Homo sapiens: one gene and its partner. The protein of the gene in region 1 purifies or fractionates together with the protein of each later gene. This does not show direct contact. Each region holds a gene or a part of one and is shown on either strand. Other genes may lie near its edges.

Region 1 (3,657 bases):
AACTTCATTCCTTTTTATTGCTGTGCTGAAGCTGAGTAACATTTAGATTACTATTTAGATCTTAACATTTTTCTGTTCAATGCTTTGTAGCACCTCCTTGTTATCCCAAGAATCAATTTTCAGGCTGGCATTCGGGGTCCTGTTCATCTAGCCCTGGGCAACTGTGACATTCTTTTACACTGAAGCTTCCCTAAAGCTGTGGATATTAACAGCCGATCCATGTTTCAGTGTTGTCACACCCCCCTTAGCAAATTGTGTACTATTGATGTTTTTTTCAGTATTTCAGTCAACCTTTCTTTCTTTCCTTCTCTCCTTCTCTCTCTCTCTCTCTCTGTTGTCTAGGCTGGAGTGCAGTGGCGTAAACACCACTCACTGCAGACTCAACCTCCTGGGCTCAAGGGATCTTCCCACCTCAGCCTCTTGAGTAGCTGGAACTACAGGTGCATGCCACCATGCCCGGATAATTTTTTAACTTTTTTATAGAGATGAGGTCTCACTATGTTGCCCAGGCTGGTGTTGAACTCTTGGGCTTAAGTGATCCTCCCACCTTGGCCTCCTAAAGTGCTGGGATTTATAGGTGTGAGCCACTTCACCTGGCCTAACCTTTCAATTCAAAAAGGAAAAGATGTTGTATGACAACAAATTGCTCTCTTCATGGAATGTACTAGTAATTAAACTTTTAAATTTTTTGAATGAACCATAGGTTCTAAATAAATAACAACACCCCACCATTATGTTGCTACAAATGGAATACAGACCTCTATACTTTTTTTCTTTTCATTGTAATGTCTGTTTTTTCCAGTTTTTGAGGTATAATTTACATGCCACAAAATTTACCCATTTTTATGCACAATTTGATAAATTTTGGTGATGGTATTTAAATATCCATATAACCCCTGCCACAGTCATCATATAGAACTTCCAGGTGGGGCAGAGTGGCTTACGCCTGTAATACCAACACTCTGGGAGGCAGAGGCAGGAGCATTGATTGAGGCCAGGAGTTTGCGTCAAGCCTGGGCAACACAATGAGACCCCATCTCTACAAAAAATTAAAAATTTTAGGTGGGCATGGTGGCACATGCCTGTAGTCCCAGCTACTGGGAAGCTGAGGCGGGAGGATCGCCTGAGCCTGGGAAGTTGAGGAGGGCAGTGAGCTATGATCGCACCTCTGCACTCCAGCCTGGGCAACACAGCAAGACTCTGTCTCAAAAAGAAAAGAATTTCCATCCCCTAAAATGTTTCCTTGTGCCCTTTGCAGATGATCTGTGCCCACACGCTATAGTTTGATACCACCTGTAGTGAACACAGCAATATGTGTTCGCAAAATGAAAAGGGTGCAACATGTAAACAAAATGGAGAAAAGGCCAAAAAGTCAGTCAGGGAATGGAGGACTTGAGGTAGGAAAACTTGTGTGCAGGCCAGCAAAGGACGATGGCAATGAAGGCAGAGTTGAATAGCGCCCAGAGGAATGTGGGAGGCTGCTGCAGACACAGAAAGCAGTGATCCTCAATGGGAAGGAAAGACTGGAATCCCCTGGGGGGCTTTTCACAGCTGCCCCTCACCACTACTCCTCCAAGATTCTGATGTCATTCTTGAGTGTAGGAGGCTTTGAAATCTCTGCTGTAAGTGAGCTACCACTGTTAAGTGACAGATTTTTATGTTCCCTACATGTGTGGGAAGAGAAGTTTCAGAACCACTGCTTAGAAATAAGAAAACCCGCCATGCCACCCAAGCCTACTCTTTCTTTATTCATTCAATAAATATTTGAGAATTTGTTTGCCTGGGACTGTTTAGGCATTCAATATGTACTTCTTCTCAAAGTATATGCAGATTTAGTAAACCAGATAGTGTATTACTATATTTCACGAAATAAATCAAGGGCTTAGATAATTTGGAAAGATACTGAATTAAGTGGGAACATTTTGATTCTATATGGCAACTTTATAAAATATCTCATTTTGATATTATAGTTTGTAAAGCCCAGTACGGCAAACCATATTGAAATTTTTCATTAGTCTTTTCCTTAGTAAAGACTTACCAAATAGCTGTCATTTTAATATATCCTCTTCATATTTATAATAATTGATATTAATGGCTATTAATGTGTATGTCTATTAATATATACATGTATGTAGGTTTTTGGTTAATGTACATATATATGTTATTAAATACATATAGATATATATGGCTATTAATATACATGTCCTTGGGGTTCTATGATTATTCATGTATTTTAATCCATTAATTTTTATTTGAAATTAAAATGGCTGACTTTGCATATTTGTTTACCTTTTTGTGGCAATTCAAGCATTATTTAATCTGTATTGTTAATCTCTTTTAAAGCAAGAGGAAGAACAAGATAGAAAGGGTAGCCATACTGATTTGGAAAGCATTAATGAAAATTTAGTTGAAAGTGCATTGAGAAGAGTAAACAGAGAAGAAAAAGGTAAGTTATTCAAATTCTAATCATTTCTTAGGTGAGGAGTTGGGGAATACCAATTTTTATGTTACTAGGTCTCAGATATCATAAACAAGAGTACAAGCTGATATTTGTTTGCTTATCTAGTAACTTATTTAATGTTTTAGGAATATTTTATTTACCTACAACAAAAGAGAGAATAGCATTTATCAGTAAGAGTCATTAGAAAGAGCAGTATTTATTGTGCTATCCACCATAAAAAGCATAGCATACTGTGTGTATGTAAGTCCTCCCAGGGCTTCATTCTTGTATAATATAGAATATGTAACTATATACATATTATTTTTTTAACTCAGTCACTGTAATGGTTCGTTTTAATTTTTCATTTTGGATTTTTTTTTAAATTTCCTTTGCTACTTAGATTAGAAAGAACATTGATCTTTCAAACATAGATCTGAATATGAAAGAGAAAAGAAACACTTCCATATTTGTTAGAGTCTATGTGTGGACAGAGATGGATACATAATTTCACATGCTTGGCATTCCTTTTTCACACTTTAAAATCAGGTAATAAGTCAGTCCATCTGAGGAAAGCCAGTTCACCAAATCTTCATAGACGACAGTGGGAGAAAAATGTACCCAATACAGCTCTTACAGCTTTGGAAAATGCATCCATACTCACCTCCAGTTTAACAGCAGAGGACGATAGAGGTTAGTAGTCAGATTGAATACTATTATTTTATTAGAGAACTTTTTCTAATAGTTACTTAGTGCACTTAGAGCCTTTTAATGTCTGTGAAGGGTATTTGGCGTCACACATCAGAGCATTGCTCATACAGGTGAATGAAGCAGATTTTAGTTAACAGTCAAATATAACTAACTTCGCTTGAAAATATGATCTGGAAAGTACATGCTGAAAAATCTTTTTTTATTCAGCACTAATTTTTGTCTTTTTGCAACTAGGTGGTTCTGTAATAAAGTACAGCAAAAATACTACTCGTAAGCAGTGGCTCAAAGAGACCCCTGACACTTTGTTGAACATCCTTAAGAATGCTGATCTCAGCTTGGCTTTTCAAACATACACAATATATAGACCAGGTAATTCATGTCTGTATGTGACCTTGGAAACCCTTTGACTTTTTGAAAATTGTGGCAAATATATATAACATAAAATTTACATTTGAACCATTTTAAGGTGTACAGTTCAGTAGCACTAAGTACGTCACATTGTTGTACAG
Region 2 (3,657 bases), on another chromosome or scaffold:
TGTGTAGCTAGAGTTCATTTGTTTTCATTGCTGAATAAATAATATTTCCATTGTATAAACATATCAAAATCCAAAATGTATTTTATCTATTTTACAGCATGTGGACATTTGGGTTATTTCTAGGGTGTTTTTTTGTTTTGTTTTGTTTTTCCAATTATAACAATGCTGCAACAGTCTTAGATTCATCTCCTGGGGTATATATTTAAGAATCTCTCCAGCCTATCACGGTGGTGTGAGCCTTTAGTCCCAGCGACTCAGAAGGCTGAGCTGGGAAGACTGCTTGAGTCCAGGAGTTCAAGGCTATGATCATACCTGTGAATAGCTGCTGGAGTGCAATAGGAGCAAGACTCCCATCAAAAAAACACAAAAAAGAATCTCTCCAAATTAGGATATATATTTAGGAATAAAATTACTGGGTTGTTGAATATGCATATGTTCATCTTTACTAGGTAATGTCAAATCATTTTTAGTAATAAACTACTTTTGAGATATCTCACACCTGATCATGATACAAGCGTTATTTTTTATTTTTAGCACATACACCAGCTTATAATTTGTTGAATGATTTAAAAAGGTTACAACGGAAACCAGTAAAATCTGGTTACTGATCACTAGCTAACATTGTACCAGTACATCTAAATTATATTAAGTGATTAATATGCCTTAGATACAGTAAAGGCTCAACAAATTTTGTTGAACAAACAAGTAAATGTTTAATAATTCTGCAATGAGTATATTAATTATAATTTTAAAAATAAAAGTAGTAAATGACTTAGCCCTTTCTATTTCCTCAAGAAAGAACAGTAATGAACTTAGTTTGGGATCTCCAGAGCCTCTTGTTTAACCTTTGTTTATATAGCTTAAATTTTATAAAGTCTCAAAGATGTCTAATTTTACCATTCCTATCTAGATACAAGGAAAAAGATGAGATTAGGCACCATTATTATACACTCTAATTGCACCAAGTACCTTTCCTTTGTAATACTTCCCACTGCTATAATTCTGTATTAATTTAGGAGAGTATTTGAGTGATGTTTTCCTTACTATATTACAAACTCCACAAGGTAGGGGCTACGTCTGTTTTTGCTCATTATTATACTCCCAGTATCCATTATGTGCTTTTAAAGCAGGTGCTTATATGTTGAATGAATAAGCAAATGATCTTTAATTTCTAGCAGTCTTCCACTGTTGACACTCTTGTACGTTAGTCTTAGCATTAAGTTTCTTTGTATTCCTAGATGTATATCTAATAATAAAGAATCTCTGGGAGTCTCTATTGAAAGAAACTCTGTGATAAATAGAAGAATTATTTTATTATGCAAATAATTACCACCAAATTACTCCTTTATGAAATCTGGGATTTCCTAAGAACCTACATGTTTAATTTTGCTGTAAGTGAAAGAAAATGGTGAGTAGAATGAAGATACCAAAGATTTGATGTTTGGAGACGTGCTCAAATTTGTGTGCCAGCACTTCCAGTAGTGGGACTTTGTGGGAAATACTCAACTTTTCTCAGCCTCAATCTCTTCATCTGATAAATGGAGTTTATTTATTGGAGTTGTTTTGTGGATTAAATGAAATGATCCATTTATAATGCTCCTAGTATACTATCATACATTAAGCACTTGGAAAACCTTTTCCTTGCCAATCTCTTAATATAAAGAAATTCAATAAATATGTAGTTTCTGTTGCATAACATCTCCCCAGCATACCTGCTACAACTGCTTATTTTGCAATATATAAGCCACAAAAGACTCAAATGATTTACCAGCTATTTTACTACTATGGACCACTAGGAAAATTTCACACACATATACTAAAGTCAAAAAGTCCTAGAGCTTTGAAATTTTTTCTGTCCTTTTAAAATTAAAGAAATAAGAGGCAAGGGCGGGGGGAAAAAAGAAGGAAAAAAGGTATCATATTCAAGAGTTGTATCCATTTCTGACTTAAAATCAAGCTTTGCTCAGAACATCATTCCCTTATCACCAGTTCTTAAGAGCATCAGAAAAAACTTGCCATCTCGAGAATCTCACATACTGCTTCCATCCCGCTTTGCTCAATCAATTCTAAGTTCCTGACTAACAGTGTCTCTTGTGCCGGGATTGGGGGGAAGAACAGATTATTCTCTAAGGCACTACAGATTAGTAGCTGATGATGAACAGGGCTAAAATCAGCACCTCTGCCCAACTGATGGTGTGGGCCTTCCCTTAAAAGAACACCCAGTGCATTACCGCTAGAGTTCTACAAATTAAAGCCAGATGAACGAAATGCTGCTAAAAGAAAGTTATGAAGCCAAAAAGAACAACGCTCCTCTCCCTCTCCCCTAAAAAATGTTTAAGAGAAATCTGACTGATTAATGGGTTAGTCCCCAGGTGCACTAATTTAAAAGATAAATAAACCAACAGCTTAAAGTTGCAAAATTCCTTACCAGCTAGCTATTCTTAAATATAAAATATTATTTAAAATATAAACAAACCTCTATAAGTTGTACTTAGACTTAAATGTAATCACTATAAATTTTTCTCTTTTTTTTTGAGACAGAGTCTCACTCTGTCACCCAGGCTGGAGTGCAGTGGCGCGATCTCGGCTCACTGCAAGCTCCACCTCCTGGGTTCACGCCATTCTCCTGCCTCAGCCTCCTGAGTAGCTGGGACTACAGGTGCCTGCCACCATGCCCGGCTAATTTTTTTTGTATTTTTAGTAGAGAAGGAATGGTTTCACCCTGTTGGCCAGGATGGTCTCGATCTCCTGACCTCGTGATCCGCCTGCCTCAGCCCCCCAAAGTGCTGGGATTACAGGCGTGAGGCACCGCGCCCGGCCTGTAATCATTATAAATTTTTTGTTAGAGAAAGCTTATTACAAAAAATTTGTTTACTTGTTTTTGTTAAATTTTTTATACATTTTGTGTTCTTGTTTTTGTCAAAAAAGCTGTCTTTATTTTATTTTATTTGTTGGTCTTGAACTCCTTGGCTCAAGTGATCTGTCTGCCTCAGCCTCTGAAAGTGCTGGGATTACAAGCGTGAGCCACTGTGCCCAGTCAGCTGCCCTTTTTTAAAAACCATAAAATAAATGGATAATAAAGGCTTCAGACAATGTAAGAAGATACAAAGAAAAAAATCACTGTTGAAATTTCATATTATACATTATAATTGAATTTCTAGGATACTGATTTAGTTTAGATGCACGTCAGTGGTTCTTACTCTGGGCAATTTTGCCTTCTTACTCCCAATTAATGCCCCAACATTTAGCAATGTCTAGAGGGTATTTTTGGTTGTCACAAATGGAGGGGTCATCCAGTGGTTAGAAGCCAGGGATGCTACAAAACATTCTACAATGCACAGCTTCCAACAAAGTATTAGCTTGCCCCAAATGTCAATAGTGCTCAGATTAAGCAGCCCTGGTCTACATGATCATGCAGTTGGATTATTCTACTAGTCTGTATGTCTAACTCTTGTCTCTTCCTCCCTTTCCAACAGCACCAGATAAATATTCCCAAAGTGGTGCTTTTATTACATAATTCCTCTGCTCAAAAACTCTTCTGCTCATATAATGGTTATTCATTACCAATGCACATTAAATCTAAATTTCTCATTGAGTAGCCAAAATATGTTACTCTTTGAATCCATGTTAGATGCTGTCCCTGAACATTTTATCCCC

The links. Proteins that work in one complex are often made in the same cells at the same time.
Region 2: the proteins of NEK3 (region 1) and CDC27 purify together in Homo sapiens (affinity purification with mass spectrometry, with the first as the bait; one large-scale study listed by BioGRID). This does not show direct contact.

What each region holds. Positions count from the first base shown.
Region 1 is NC_000013.11:52,135,589-52,139,245, reverse strand, and holds part of NEK3 (serine/threonine-protein kinase Nek3), read left to right. Parts: intron 1-2,343; coding exon 2,344-2,446; intron 2,447-2,986; coding exon 2,987-3,130; intron 3,131-3,382; coding exon 3,383-3,517; intron 3,518-3,657.
Region 2 is NC_000017.11:47,182,663-47,186,319, forward strand, and holds part of CDC27 (cell division cycle protein 27 homolog), read right to left. Parts: intron 1-3,657. UniProt on the Homo sapiens protein: Component of the anaphase promoting complex/cyclosome (APC/C), a cell cycle-regulated E3 ubiquitin ligase that controls progression through mitosis and the G1 phase of the cell cycle.